3 linked regions of the Homo sapiens genome follow. The protein of the gene in region 1 purifies or fractionates together with the protein of each later gene. This does not show direct contact. Each region holds a gene or a part of one and is shown in the gene's direction. Other genes may lie near its edges.

Region 1 (5,273 bases):
CACCACACCCAGCTAATTTTTTGTATTCTTAGTAGAGACGGGGTTTCACCATGTTGGCCCGGATGGCCTCGATCTCCTGACCTTGTGATCCACCCACCTCGGCCTCCCAAAGTGTTGGGATTACAGGCGTGAGCCACCGCACCAAGCCTATGCCACGTTTTTTAATTCATTCATTTGTTAATGGACACTCGGGTTGTTTTCATATTTTGGCTATTGTGAATAACACTGCTATGAACAGAGGTGTACAAGTGTCCATTTGAGTCCCTGTTTTCAATTCTTTGGGACCTAGCCACCTAGGTTTTTGACTTGAGCGTGTTTATGCTCTTGACAGCTGTGGATATTATAATTTGTTTTTAATTTGGGCTAATTTAGTAAATAAAAAAAGGGTTTAATTTGCATTTATTTGATATAGAAATCATTTATCATGTTTTCATTCCAGTTAATGCCTTACATCTAATTATACTTTTATTTTAATTTAATTTTTTATTTATAGAGACAGAGTTTTGCTCTGTCACCCAGGCTGGAGTGCGGTAGCATGATCACGGTTCACTGCAGCCTCGACCTCCTGGGCTCATGCAGTCCTCCTGCTTCAGAACCCCCGGTAGCTGGGACTACCAGCCCATGCCCCCATGTCCAGCTAATTTTTTTTTTTTTTGAGATGGAGTCTTGCTCTGTCGCCCAGGCTGGAGTGCAATGGCGTGATCTCGGCCCACTGCAACCTCAACCTCCCAGGTTCAAGCGATTCTCCTGCCTCAGCCTCCTGAGTAGCTGGGATTATAGGAGTGTGCCACCACACCTGGCTAATTTTTTTGTATTTTTAGTAGAGACGGGGTTTCACCATGTTGGCCAGGCTGGTCTCGAACTCCTGACCTCAGGTGATCCACCCGCCTCAGCCTCCCAAAGTGCTGGGATTACAGGCAGGAGCCACTGTGCCCGGCCTAATTTTTGTATTTTTTGTAGAGACAGGGTTTCACCGTGTTGCCCAGGCTGGTCTTGAACTCCTAGGCTCAAGCAATCTGCCTGCCTCCGCCTCTTAGAGTGCTGGGATTACAGGTGTGAGCCACTGCGCCTGTCATTAATTATCCTTTTAATTGTTCAGAATATTTAAAAATTGCTCTTATCTTTGCATACTGATTCGGATTCAAACTTGTGACTATTATTTGCCAGGCCCTGGGTCAGTTCCTTGCACATAAATTTTTTCACTTGATCCTTATAAGAGGCCTGGGTTAGAAATATTAGTGACCCCATTTAGAGGTGGGAATACTGAGACTCAAAGAGGTTAAATCTTTTTTTTTTCTGTCCATATGTTTATCGTCTTTATCTGAAAAATCTTTATAGAAAATTGTTTGGTTTAGCTCTCAGCAGCCTGCTCCTGAGCTCTGAGGGAGCTTGCCTTCTTTTAAGCTACCTGATGTTTCTTCTGAGCAAGGGACATTTTGGGACAGTTCCACCTATTCTTTTTAACTTCTTTCTTGGGCCTCTTTTCATAGACTGGATTCTCTCATATAGCAGCATGAGCTTTCTTATACATCTCTTCCATCATGTCTGGAGTTACGCTCTTCTTTATGCATTGAGAGAACTGGTTCTTGTAAGCATCTTCATCTTCTTCTGTTAAGTAGTGCATGTAATCTGCAACATTCTGGCCCATGATGTGCTTCTGGTGTACTTCTGCATTAAATTCCTTGCTTTCAGAATCATAACTAGGGAATCGTTTGGTACTGTGAGGGACAGACAAGCCTCCATCCACAGCTCCCTTCAGGGTGCCAAAAACTTTATTGCCAGTGGTAGTTCTGGCAAGACCTGTATCCAAATAGCAGGTAAAGGCACCTGGCTGACCATCAATGCTTTCCACATTGTATTCATTGCCAGTCTCCTCCACTTGGCCTTCATAGATCTTGTCCATGCCAAACCTATTGGGAAGCCTGCGGGCCAGCAGCAGGCCAGTACAATAAGTTGCAGCATAATTTGTCAGGCCAACCTTCACACCACATTTTGGCAGTTTGTGTGCATATGCTGCGCAGACTATATCCCCCTCTATACGGGCATAAGCAGTCTGACAAATGATATCTCTGTTTGTTACACGAACTATCATCTTATATTTGGGTGTGTTGTATTTATTTTTATCCTGTATCACCAAGCATTTCTGAGGATAGTAACCAGTTTTACCCTCTCGTCGTCTTCTAAATTTCACTTGGTATCTCTTAAAGTAGGCTTTATTCTTAACAACTTTAATAAACCCCATTCTGCGGAACAGAGACCCGCGTTTGCGGCTCGACAGAGACCTGCCGGCCCAGCAGTGCTAGGGGGTGAAAAGGCAAAATCATTTTAAGTAATTTTTCTTCAAACCCACTCTTAGTATGAATTCAGCACTCTGTACTTTACTAGTTATTAACCTAATTTGACTAATGTGTAAACTAAGGGCAGAGTGTATATTTTTCTCTTTCTTTTCTTTTCCCCCTCCCCTCCCCTCCCCTCCCCTCCCCTCCCTTCCCCTCCCATTCCGTTTCTGACAGGCTCTCACTCTGTTGCCCGGGCTGGAGTGCAGCAGCATGAACACTGGACACTGCTCACTGCAGCCTCGAACTCCTGGGTTTAAGCAGACCTCCTGCGTCAGCCTCCCGAGTAGCTGGGACCACAGGCGCATGGCATCACACCCAGCTAATTTTTTTTCTTTTTTTTTTTTTGTAGATGGGATCTTGCCATATTGTCCAGTCTAGGCTCAAACTCCTGGGCTCAAGTGATCCTCCTGCCTCCCCTTCCCAAAGTGTTGGGATTATAGGCATGAGCCACTGCCCCTGGCCAGAGTTTATATTATTTATGTAATGGCAGATAATTTGAATAGTATAATGTCTAACCCAATGCCTTAAGCACAGTAATGTTTAGTAAATATATCTTGAATTGAACTGGCAGAGCCATGACTAGAATTCAGTCTCCTGTCTCTTTAGCCAGATGTTCCAATAAACCTTGTTTTATAAAATGGTTAGAGCATAAAATATTAAAAACTAAAAAATACTTGTTTTTAAAAATCATTTTAACAATAATCTAAAGGAAAAACTTTTTTTCTAAGGACTTCCTCGTTCTGCCCATCTTCCTAACAAGGCTATGGCTGATAACAGCAGTGATGAGTGTGAAGAGGAAAATAACAAGGTACAGTAAAACTCACAGCTTCTTGTAGAATTTCTGCTTTGGGTTTTTAGTAGTTAGAGATGACACCAGTTCAACGGTAAACATTTCTTGAACACTCACCTCCAGGGGTTAGGGACCTTTGAGCTCATGGAGGAAAATCAGTTACAAAGAGCCTTGAGATTTTGACCCTTCTTCAGGAATAAAGCCTACTACTACAATTGACTTTGGTGAGGAATTTCACATAATGTAGGCCAGTGTTTCACAAACTTTCCTGATCATAATACTCAACTGAGGTACTTATTTTTAAATATACGGATTCCCAGTCCCAGCCCAGAATCTCAAAAGTAAAAGCCTGGGAATTTATATTTTTTAGGAAGCAGTCCAGGTAATTTTATGCTAAAGCGAGTTTGAAATTATCAGTCTAGGCATTTTTTCATTGTCAATACTTGTGATACTGCCAGTATTTTGTGAAGGAGATTTTAATTTTGAGGTCTTAAGACCCAGATGTTGGCTGCTGTTATTCTGTGTACCTAGAGAATCACCCTGCTTCTGAAAGAAACATGGCAAGAGGCCCACCTCTCTAGAAACATATAGGACCTTAGAGTTGCACATATGATTTCTTAAAAACCGTTTATGTTGGCCGGGTGTGGTGGCGCACTCCTGTAATCCCAGCACTTTGGGAGGCCGAGGCGGGCGGATCACCTGAGGTCAGGAGTTTGAGACCAGACTGTCCAACATGGCGAAACCCCATCTCTAATAAAAATACAAAAAATTAGCTGGGCGTGGTGGCGGGTGCCTGTAATCCCAGCTACTTGGGAGGCCTCCCAAGGTGCTGGGATTACAGGCACAAGCCACTGTGCCCAGCCTGTTTTTTTTGTTTGTTTTTTTTTTTTGAGACAGAGTCTTGCTCTTTCACCCAGGCTGGAGTGCAGTGATCTTGACTCACTGCAACCTCTGCCTCTTGGGTTCAAGCAATTCTCATGCCTCAGCCTCCCGAGTAGCTGGGGGATCACAGGCCTGCACCAACTCGCCTGGCTAATTTTTGTATTTTTAGTAGAGATGGGGTTTTGCCATGTTGGCCACACTGGTCTTGAACTCCTGACCTCAGGTGATCCTCCTGCCTTGGCCTTCCAAAGTGCTGGGATTACAGGTGTGAGCCACTGTACCCAGCCTGATGGCTGCATTTTAATGGTTTTTGTTTTTGTTTTGAGACAGAGTCATCTCGCTCTGTTGCCTAAGCTGGAGTGTAGTGGCATGACCTCAGCTCGCTGCAACCTCCGCCTCCAGGGTTCAAGCAATTCTCCTGCCTCAGCCTCCTGAGTAGCTGGGATTACAGGCGTGCGCCACCACGCCTGGCTAATTTTTGTATTTTTGGTAGAGATGGGGTTTCACCATGTTGGTCAGGCTGGTCTCGAACTCCTGACCACATGATCCGCCTGCTTCGGTCTCCCAAAGTGCTGGGATTACAGGCATGAGCCACCACCCCGGGCTGACAATATTCTTAAAAGTTCCCTCTGCCAAAACTGCTTCCTATGTGACTAAGGATAATTTTGGCAAATCTTGAATTGAGAAAGAATGCTCTAGAAAGTTCTTATCAGTCATATACTAATAAGGCATAGTCACTGAATAAATTCTGCAACTGTGTTTCATTATCTGCCATGCATATTACAGCTTAGTTAGAATATACTTTATGTATAATAAATTTGTTATTCTTAGAGCAAAATGTGACTAAAAGCAGTTTTTGGTGTCCTGTAACGTGTCACAATTTTGTGTGCCAATAGCTGCTTTACCATAAAAACAAATTAATTTTAAACAACTGGAATCAAACGTGTTAACCTCAGTATAAGCCATACGGTATATAGAAACCAAGTTTTGAAAACCTACTTTTAAAGGGGGCCAATTGGTCATCCTTCAGGTCCTAAGGGAGGGCATGCCACAGGCTCCAGGCCACAGAGGCAAAGACATGGACCCTGTTCCACCTGCCCCTGCAAGTCTCAAGTGCCACCAGACCCCTTCTCATGTACTTGAGAGGGTGGGATGGTACAGAGAGAGCCAGAAGCACAGAAAGGTAGGTTATAATGTCAAGAACAAAAGAGCTGTTTATCTTGAGAGAGAATGTGTAGTCATTTTATGTAATTTATGGGGTA
Region 2 (4,816 bases), on another chromosome or scaffold:
ACACTGCTCCCTGATCTGAGTCACAATGTTGTGACTCTGCATTTACATTTGTACAGTTGCCCACACTCACACAGCACCAGCTAAGAAAGTTATTTCTTCCTCTTTTCTCTTTATCAAAAATAATCAGCACTTAAAAATAATTTACTTCATTAAAAATAATCAGCACTTAATAATCTGCCACTGTTGGCCGGGCGCAGTGGCTCACGCCTGTAATCCCAACACTTTGGGAGGCCGAGGCAGGCGGATTACGAGGTCAGGAGATCGAGACCATTGTGGCTAACACGGTGAAACCCCGTCTCTACTAAAAATATAAAAAGTTAGCTGGGCGTGGTGGCAGGCACCTATAGTCCCAGCTACTCGGGAGGCTGAGGCAGGAGAATGGCATGAACCTGGGAGGCAGAGCTTGCAGTGAGCCGAGATCATGCTACTGCACTCCAGCCTTGGGCAACAGAGCAAGACTCTGTCTCAAAAATAAATAAATAAAATTAAAAAAATAAAAATAAATAAAAATAAAAATCTGCCACTGTCCCCCAGCCCTTGCACACACACACATACCCATTTCTACACACAAAGCCTGTTTCTCCTCCCTTTGGCCCCACTTCCAGTGACTTTCTCTTCTAGCTATGCCCTTCTCAGATCCCCTTCTTCCCTCTACCTCTAGAACTTCAATATCTACAAAAGGATCTTCACTGACATGGTGAGCTCTCCTGGAACCAACTGTGCCGAGGCCTATCATAGCTGGGCTGATCTTCGAGATGTCCTCTTCAACCTGGTGAGGAAGCGAAAGGGCTGCTCCGTCTGTCCTTGTCCTCATCTCTTCTTTGATGCACATAAACCTTTATTCTCAGATGTATTTTACCTTCCTCTGCCAGGTGGCTATCAGAGACCACTCTATGGCCCTGGCACTCCTCTGACCCCTGAGCCAGGCTGTGCTGTCTCCCTCCTCTAGTGTGAAAACCTGGTGAAGTCCAGTGAGGCAAACTCTCCAGCCCATGAGGAGTTCAAGACGATGCTGCTGATCGCTCATTACTATGCCACGCGCTCTGCAGCCCAGAGTGTCAAACAGCTGGTGAGATGTAGGGGGTCGAAGGAACACTCAGTCAGAAGGGCTCATCTGCAAATGTATAAAGCTGAATTGATTCACGTTCTGGATTCTTCAGCTTGGGCTCTTGAATCTCCCCACCTGTCTTTCAGCTTCTCTTCTGTCTAAACAAATCTTTAGCCCTTGCTGAGGTTTTCTTCTTCCGACCTTTTTAGGGCTCTGTGCCCACACAGCCTCAGCCTCATTATGTTTAAACATCCAAATCCCATGATTTCTTTATTCACCTCTTATAATGTACACATATTCTGGGCTTATTTTTGACTGTTCACTGTATATTTATTTCATGTACTTGGATGATAGAATTCTAGAAGTGGAAAGAACCTTAGAAACAATCTAGGTGGGTGGGTGTGGTGGCTCACCCCTGTAATCCCAGCACTTTGGGAGGCCGAGGCGGGTGGATCACTTGAGGCCAGGAGTTCGAGACCAGCCTGGCCAACGTGGTGAAACCCCATCTCTACTAAAAACATAAAAATTAGCCAGGTTGGCCGGGCGCGGTGGCTCACGCCTGTAATCCCAGCACTTTGGGAGGCCGAGGCGGGTGGATCATGAGGTCAGGAGATCGAGACCATCCTGGCTAACAAGGTGAAACCCCGTCTCTACTAAAAATACAAAAAATTAGCCAGGCACGGTGGCGGGCGCCTGTAGTCCCAGCTACTCGGGAGGCTGAGGCAGGAGAATGGCGTGAACCCGGGAAGCGGAGCTTGCAGTGAGCCGAGATTGCGCCACTGCAGTCCGCAGTCTGGCCTGGGCGACAGAGCGAGACTCCGTCTCAAAAAAAAAAAAAAAAAAAAAAAAAAAAAATTAGCCAGGCATGGTAATGTGCGCTTGTAGTCCTAGCTACTCAGGAGGCTGAGGCACGAGAATTACTTGAATCCGGGAGGCAGAGGTTGCAGTGAGCTGAGATGGCACCACTGCACTCCAGCCTGGGCGAAAGAATTGAACCTAGGCCCAGGTGTCTTGTTCAGAGAAAAAGAAAAAAAAAACTAAGACCCAGAACAGCTTGAGAATCCAGAGCAGTTTAATAATAATTGTTGTTTTTTAGTTCTGTGGCTGCCTTACAGGATCATTGGTCTGGTAGCTCAGTCACTTTAGTGCCATATTCATAATGCTTTGACTTTAATCCCAGGAAACCGTGGCTGCCAGGCTTTCTGTTTCACTCTTGCGTCACACCCAGCTACTACCTGTAGACAAAGCCTTCTATGAAGCAGGCATTGCTGCCAAGGTGAGCTGGGACAAGGAAGGGTGGGGCAGATAGGAGGAAGTTAAAGGTTGGAAAATAGAATATCCCTTCTGCTCTGGTAGAGGAAAGCTGAGTGTAGGGCTGATGTTACGGAGGATGTAGTCCTCCTATGTCTTCCTGGATTTTTCTCCCTGGATCCCAGAGAAATAGCATTCAAGCCCAGCTTGCTCACTCCCATTTGCATCTGGATCCCAGAGAAGTAGCATTCAAACCCAGCTTGTTCACTCCCATTTGCAACTCTTCTTTGCTGCAGGCAGTTGGCTGGGATAACATGGCATTCATCTTCCTCAATCGCTTTTTGGACCTGACCGATGTGAGTAGGGAAGCTGTGCCCCGAGGGTGGAGGTTTTTGCCAGTCGCGAGCTGTGCCTAGTTCATGGTTGCCCACTCTACTGCAGGCAATCGAGGAAGGGACTCTAGATGGCCTTGACCACTCTGATTTTCAGGATACAGACATTCCCTTTGAGGTGCCACTCCCAGCTAAGCAGCATGTACCGGTAAGGGCACAGGGTTGGAAAACCGGAAGGCCTCACCAGTGTGAGTGCCTTGAGGAGGGAGAATATCTTTGTGCTGCCATCTTTGGAAGGACCTCAGCCCTCACTGTTTTTTCAGTGAAAGTAGAAGCAAAATAGAAAGAAAAGGCTGTGACTGCATCCCCCAATCCAAGGAGGATTCGTGGCTAAAAGCTGGTATACAGGATGAGGGCTTAGCAAACCCCCTCCTCACCCATCCACCCCAACTTGTCCTGCCCTGCCCTGTGTGAAGCTACCACTCCCTTCTTGTCCTTTCCAGGAGGCTGAGAGAGAAGAGGTTCGAGACTGGGTGCTTACAGTCTCCATGGACCAGCGGCTGGAGCAGGTTCTGCCTCGGGATGAGCGTGGCGCCTACGAGGCCTCCCTAGTGGCAGCGAGCACTGGTGTTCGAGCCCTGCCCTGCCTTATTACAGGTATAGAAGCCTACAGCACCCCAGATCCTGTGGTGGGTAGAAAGCAGCAGGATCAATAAACTTAATTTTACTAGGATTCAGTAAAGGGTACAAAAGACAGGACTGTGCTTTCTACCCCCCAGGCTGCTCCTCATTTTTCCCTCCTCAATCTCTCTCAAACCCCAGTTCATCATTTTTTCTTCCTCCACAGGATACCCCATTCTGAGGAACAAAATTGAATTTAAGCGGCCAGGGAAGGCTGCTAACAAGGACAACTGGAATAAATTCCTTATGGCCATCAAGGTTAGAGAGGAGGACTTGGAGAATGAAGGCAGAGAGGGCAGCACTAAAAAAAGAAAAAAAAACAAGTCTGGGTGCAGTGGCTCATACCTTTAATCCCAGCACTTTGGGAGGCCAAGGTGGGCGGATCACCTGAGGTCAGGAGTTTGAGACCAGCCTGGCCAACATGGTTAAAACCTCGTCTCTACTAAAAATACAAAAGTTAGCCGGGTCTGGTGGCGTGCACCTGTAATCCCAGCTACTCAGGAGGCTGAGGCAGGAGAATCGCTTAAACCCGAGAGGCAGAGGTTGCAGTGAGCTGAGATTGTGCCACTGCACTCCAGCCTGGGCGACAAAGCAAGACTTTGTCTCAAAACAAACAAAAAACCCACATACACACTAGAAAGATGGGTGGGATTACAGGAAGGCAGATGCAGACCCTGAAGCCTGCGATGGAGCTGATTTTGTATTTCCAGCATTAACAAGTTCCTCTCATGTTCTTCCATTTGCTCACAGACCTCCCACAGCCCAGTGTGCCAGGACGTGCTGAAATTCATCAGTCAGTGGTGTGGAGGGCTCCCCAGCACCAGCTTTTCCTTTCAGTAGTTGGTAGAGCTGAGGAAGAGTTAGGGCCTCTCCCTCATTAAAGTTTTATAAATAATTGAGACCACTGTATTCTTTGATCAAAGTCATTCCCAACACCACACAGTGCCTTTTCCCCAAAAGGAATCATAATCAAGTAGAAGAAAAGAGAAGTTACTTTATTACAATTTGTTATCTCATCCCGAGGTCAGGGCCCCTTGCTTAGTGGGAAAAAAAACCCTTTAGGACTGAGTCTCGGAACAGCACCTGCTGGACAGAGGGGAGAACCAACCCAGGTCAGAGGGGAAAGCAGCATGGCAAGACCTAGACCCAGTTCTAAGAGCACTTCCTTGTCCCCGCTCTTACCCGGGCCACCACCTTCAAGGCCCATTACCTGTCCTAAACCCAACTTCTCTGTGATGCCCGGATTTCTTGATTTTGATCCAGTAGCTGCTCATTTTCCTGCCTTTTACATTTAGGAGATTCAAGCTCTGTCATTTCCTCTAGCTGCAGAAGAAGATAGAGTTAGACACCCTCGCCCTGAATGATAGGTCAGCATCTTTTTTTTGTTTTGTTTTTTGTGACGGAGCCTCACTCTGTTGCCCAGGCTGGAGTGCAGTGGCGTGATCTCGGTTCACTGCAACCTCCGCCTTCCGGGTTCAAGCGATTCTCCTGCCTCAGCCTTCCA
Region 3 (4,816 bases), on another chromosome or scaffold:
GAAAATAAAAGTAATGCATGAAGGGAATTTAAAAAAATCAAGCTACAAAGAAGAAAATAAAAGTCCTTCCTGCTCCCCACCCAGAAACCAGGAACAACACTGTTAACACGGGTGCATGTCACCCGTACCAGGATATGCTGCATTTAAAGCTGCGTATCTGGCTTTTTCCTTTTAACGTTCTTTTACAAACCTTCCACCTGCCATTAAATTGTCTTTGAAAACACCGTTAGAGTCACGTGACTGTGACAGTCTCCAGCACACACCCTCTTGTGGCTGACTCAGACGCCTCAGGCAGCAGCATTGCCCCTGGTCATGTGAGTTTCTACAGTGGGGAGCGACTCCTGGCAAAGTTTCTAACACAGCCAAGTAGTCTTCCCTTGGTTCACACGATGATTGCATTCTTAGAAAATTCAGTCTATGAAAAAATGCTTTGTGTTTTTGCAAAAACAACCAGATTCTGGAATTGGGTGATCATAGACAATTATTTTACCGACCTGAATGGCCCACAGGACAGTCAGAAGCTGTGTGGGACAGGAGACCAAGCTCTGTGCCAGGGCCCCCATGCAGTGCAGGATGGTAACATGCCTGGCCCCAGCCATCCAGTGCCAAGAGGCCTCTTGGCTAAGGAGACAGCCGGGAACAACCCCGCTGGTTTCTAGAGGGCTCCCCTGGAGGTGGCCCTGCCTCACTGAGAGCCACCACAGGAGACAGTCTCTAATGGTCCCCACTTCCACACATGCCACTCACAGGGCTTCCCCCCTCTTGTGTCCTTTCTTCCAGAAGACACCTGGTCTTCCAGGACGCCGTCACGGTCAAGGTGGCGCAGTGAGCAGGAGCACACACTTCACGAGTCATGGAGCTCCCTCAGTGCCTTCGACCGCTCCCACCGGGGACGCATCTCCAACACGGAGCTCCCGGGGGACATCCTGGATGAGCTCCTGCAGCAAAAGAGCAGCCGGCACAGCGACTTGCCCCCCTCCAAGAAGGGGGAGCAGCCAGGGCTGTCGAGAGGGCAGGATGGCTACTCTGGAGAGACAGACGCTGGGGGTGACTTTAAAATCCCCGTCTTGCCTTATGGACAGCGCTTGGTCATTGACATCAAGTCTACCTGGGGGGACAGACACTATGTCGGCCTCAACGGAATAGAAATATTCAGTTCCAAGGGTGAACCGGTGCAGATTTCAAACATAAAAGCAGACCCTCCCGATATCAATATTTTACCAGCCTATGGGAAAGACCCCCGCGTGGTCACCAACCTCATCGACGGGGTGAACAGGACCCAGGATGACATGCATGTCTGGCTGGCCCCCTTCACGCGGGGCAGATCCCACTCCATCACCATTGACTTCACGCACCCTTGCCACGTTGCCCTGATCAGAATTTGGAACTACAATAAATCTCGGATACATTCCTTCCGAGGCGTGAAGGACATCACAATGCTGTTAGACACCCAGTGCATCTTTGAAGGAGAAATCGCCAAGGCCTCTGGAACCCTGGCGGGAGGTATGGCGTGTCTGTAAGAATTTTCTCAGAGCCCCTATCTGTGACTTGCTGAGAGTCTATGGGAAAAAACAGACCAGCTGGCTAGCCAACAACAGATCAGTCCTTTCTCTTTCTTTTTTTTTTTTTTTTTTGAGACGGAGTCTTGCTCTGTCCCCCAGGCTGGAGTGCAGTGGCGCGATCTTGGCTCACTGCAAGATCCGCCTCCCGGGTTCACGCCATTCTCCTGCCTCAGCCTCACGAGTAGCTGGGACTACAGGCACCCGCCAACACGCCCGGCTAATTTTTTGTATTTTTTTTTTTTTTTTTTAGTAGAGACAGGGTTTCACCATGTTAGCCAGGATGGTCTCGATCTCCTGACCTCATGATCTGCCCGTCTCGGCCTCCCAAAGTGTTGGAATTACAGGCGTGAGCCACCGCGCCCAGCCCTTTTTTTTTTTTTTTTTTTTTTTGGGTGGGGAGACAGGATCTTGCCCTGCACAGTGGCATGGTTTCGGCTCACTGCAGCTTCGACCTCCTGGGCTCAAGCAATCCTCCCACATCAGCCTCCTAAGTAGCTGGGACTACAGGTGCACCAACCCACCTGGCTAATTTTTGTATTTTTTGTAGAGACGAGGTTTCACCATGTTACCCAGGCTGGTCTCGAACTCCTGGGCTCAAGTGATCCACCCACCTTGGCCTCCCAAAGTGCTAGGATTACAGGCATGAGCCCCTGCACCCAGCCACAGACCCGGTCCACTCATCCCCTCTTACAGCATGAGTGTGCTAGGCCTGACCTCATTCAGCATCTCCCATAAAGCACCTGTCTTGGTCCGGCCCCTAGAACCTGAGTCTGAGATGGGGCATTCTTTGGCAAGTGACTTATGGAGGGAGTGCTCCTAGGAGAAACCTGGCATAGTGAAGCAAGGATATAGTTTCCAGGAAGCCCAGCCACAACCAGATCTTGAGGGAGGTCTGGAACATAAATTTCAGGTCTTTCCTGCCTGAAGGTGAAGGAGCAGGGCGTTAGAACCCCACCTACCAGGCAGTCATTGGAACCAAGGCTTGCCGGGTTGGAGCTGTAACTCCCACACCCTTCCAGGCAAGGCACTCTGAGAAAAGGATCCACCAAGATCTGGGTGGGGTACCAACAGCGTCTTGCATAGTGCCTTGCCCACCCCAAAGAAATGTCACTTGCCTGATGACATATCACAGTGATTCTCATGAAATTAGATCCCTTCCTTAGATCCATGTGATGCTTATGGTCCGTGCATTCCATTTGCAAATCTGTGAAGACTAATAAGGCTCACACTAATCAATACCAGTTAAGGGTGTGGGGTTGTACAGCACAGAAGTGGATGGGTTTAGGCTCTTGATCTACAAATCTCTGGGATGTGAAGTGAGTTGACCTTTCTGTCATCTTGATAACCCATTAGCCCCAGAGCACTTTGGAGACACGATCTTATTCACAACCGATGATGACATTCTCGAGGCCATATTCTATTCTGATGAGATGTTTGACCTGGATGTGGGGAGCCTGGACAGCCTGCAGGATGAAGAGGCAATGAGGAGGCCCAGCACGGCCGACGGCGAGGGGGATGAGCGGCCCTTCACCCAGGCTGGCTTGGGGGCTGATGAACGGGTAGGACTGGAGCTGGGGGGCTGTGGGGGGACCCCCAGATAGGTTTCTTCCCCTAACTCAGAGTAGAGCAGGGAGAATTAAGATGGATATCCTTTAAGCTGCTGGTGCCACTGTGTTGACATTTCCCATCTTTCTACTTTGTTTTTTTGTCCTCTATGTCATATTTCATTCTCTAATTATTTTTATTTTTTTATTTTTTTTTAACCGAAGTAAAGAAAGTATTCAAATTCTAATCAAAGCCAGGAGAAATGAGCTCTGTGTCATCTCTGCAATTCAGAGGTTGGCAGTCTGGGGGGAGTTTTTGCTTGGGGTTGCGTTTTGATCATTCACTGTTGTTTTTGATGGAAGGACTAGGAATGCTTTTCATAGGCAGAGTTACAGTTAAAATAATGATCATCACAGCCATGGTTTCATGAACACATATCATGATCCAAGCAGGGTACACAGTGTTCTTGTTTCACCCTCATGACAACCCTCTGAGTAGAGACTATTAACATTGCCATTTCGGAAACTGATGCTCAGAGAAGTCAAGTGACTTGCCCAAGGGCACATTGTGACAGAGAAACAAGGGTAGAACTTGAATGCGTGATTCCACAGTTTATGCTTTTAATTGGTAAGCAACTTATTATTTTTTTATTTTGTTTAGAGATAGGGCCTGGCACTGTCGCCCAGGCTGGAGTACACTAGCGTGATCATAGCTCATTGCAGCTCAAACTCCCGGGGCTCAAGCAATCCTACCACCTCAGCCTCCTGAGTAGCTGAGACTACAGTGCATGCCACCATGCCTGGCTAGTTTTTTTTTTATTTTTTGTAGAGATGTGGTCTTGCTATGTTGCCCAGGTTGGTCATGAACTCCTGGACTCAAGCGCTTCTCCCACCTTGGCCTCCCAAAGTGCTGGGATTACAGGCAAGAGCCGCCACACTTAGCCAGATAAACAAATCTTTTAAAATGAAAGATGACCTTCAAGGTCAATTCAAGTCAGGACCAATAGGAAAAAGAGGAGATGGTTAAACAGGGTAGGGGAGAAATGGGGACAACACAAGCCACAAGGGATGGGGCTGGGCTGTGGGAAGGTCATGACTGAGGCAGGACAGCAACATGTCGTGTGGACCCCATGGTGTTCCCTGGGGATTGTACCTCGCAGCCAGGCAGAGCATGGGGTGCAGGAGCAGGGCATGGGGAGGCACAGGCAGCTGGGGAGTGCGTGCCCCTCCCCCTCCCCACATCTAAGGAAAGCGGCCACCAAGAGGGGCAAGCCCATTGTTGCCAGTTCTCCTGATTTTTACAAGAGAAGCCAGAAAGCTGGATTTTTCTGTAAAACCTCTCCATTTAAAAATGCTGGCAGTGAATTCAGATGTGTTCAAACCTTTTTTGGGCCACAAGCCGTGCCTGTGCTCCTGATTCGACCCAGGGGTCTCCAGGTGGGAGTCTACCCTGGGCGCTTCCATTTGCCCAGCGTTTTCCAAATGACAAAGGTGCTCGTAAGGGACTCTGATGGGCCCAGCGCTGTGAGGGGCTGGGGGGATCACTCTCTCAGTCTCGTGAGAGACCAGCGCCTTCACTTATGGTGCAAAGAGACAATGAGCAAATAGTTTATATGTAAGGCCCAAGAAGGGTGTGGTGGCCCACCGTTGACTCTCTGAAGACCAGGATTTTTTATCCTGGCTACCCGTGGAAATCACTTGGGTGGATCT

What was found. Proteins that work in one complex are often made in the same cells at the same time.
Region 2: the proteins of IFT46 (region 1) and IFT172 purify together in Homo sapiens (affinity purification with mass spectrometry; 2 studies listed by BioGRID and IntAct, with this or other methods). This does not show direct contact.
Region 3: the proteins of IFT46 (region 1) and KATNIP purify together in Homo sapiens (tandem affinity purification; one large-scale study listed by IntAct). This does not show direct contact.

Annotation. Positions count from the first base shown.
Region 1 is NC_000011.10:118,557,659-118,562,931, reverse strand, and holds part of IFT46 (intraflagellar transport protein 46 homolog), read left to right. Parts: intron 1-1,293; exon of another isoform or gene 1,294-2,315; intron 2,316-3,067; 5' UTR 3,068-3,102; coding exon 3,103-3,147; intron 3,148-5,041; coding exon of another isoform or gene 5,042-5,194; intron 5,195-5,273. UniProt on the Homo sapiens protein: Forms part of a complex involved in intraflagellar transport (IFT), the bi-directional movement of particles required for the assembly, maintenance and functioning of primary cilia. May play a role in chondrocyte maturation and skeletogenesis.
Region 2 is NC_000002.12:27,443,768-27,448,583, reverse strand, and holds the end of IFT172 (intraflagellar transport protein 172 homolog), read left to right. Parts: intron 1-661; coding exon 662-772; intron 773-949; coding exon 950-1,069; intron 1,070-2,102; exon of another isoform or gene 2,103-2,228; coding exon 2,229-2,324; intron 2,325-2,595; coding exon 2,596-2,655; intron 2,656-2,740; coding exon 2,741-2,839; intron 2,840-3,134; coding exon 3,135-3,288; intron 3,289-3,478; coding exon 3,479-3,570; intron 3,571-4,062; coding exon 4,063-4,152; 3' UTR 4,153-4,207; downstream 4,208-4,816. Other genes in the region: KRTCAP3 (keratinocyte-associated protein 3), read right to left, coding at 4,528-4,635. UniProt on the Homo sapiens protein: Required for the maintenance and formation of cilia. Plays an indirect role in hedgehog (Hh) signaling, cilia being required for all activity of the hedgehog pathway.
Region 3 is NC_000016.10:27,748,804-27,753,619, forward strand, and holds part of KATNIP (katanin-interacting protein), read left to right. Parts: intron 1-780; coding exon 781-1,503; intron 1,504-2,915; coding exon 2,916-3,121; intron 3,122-4,816. UniProt on the Homo sapiens protein: May influence the stability of microtubules (MT), possibly through interaction with the MT-severing katanin complex.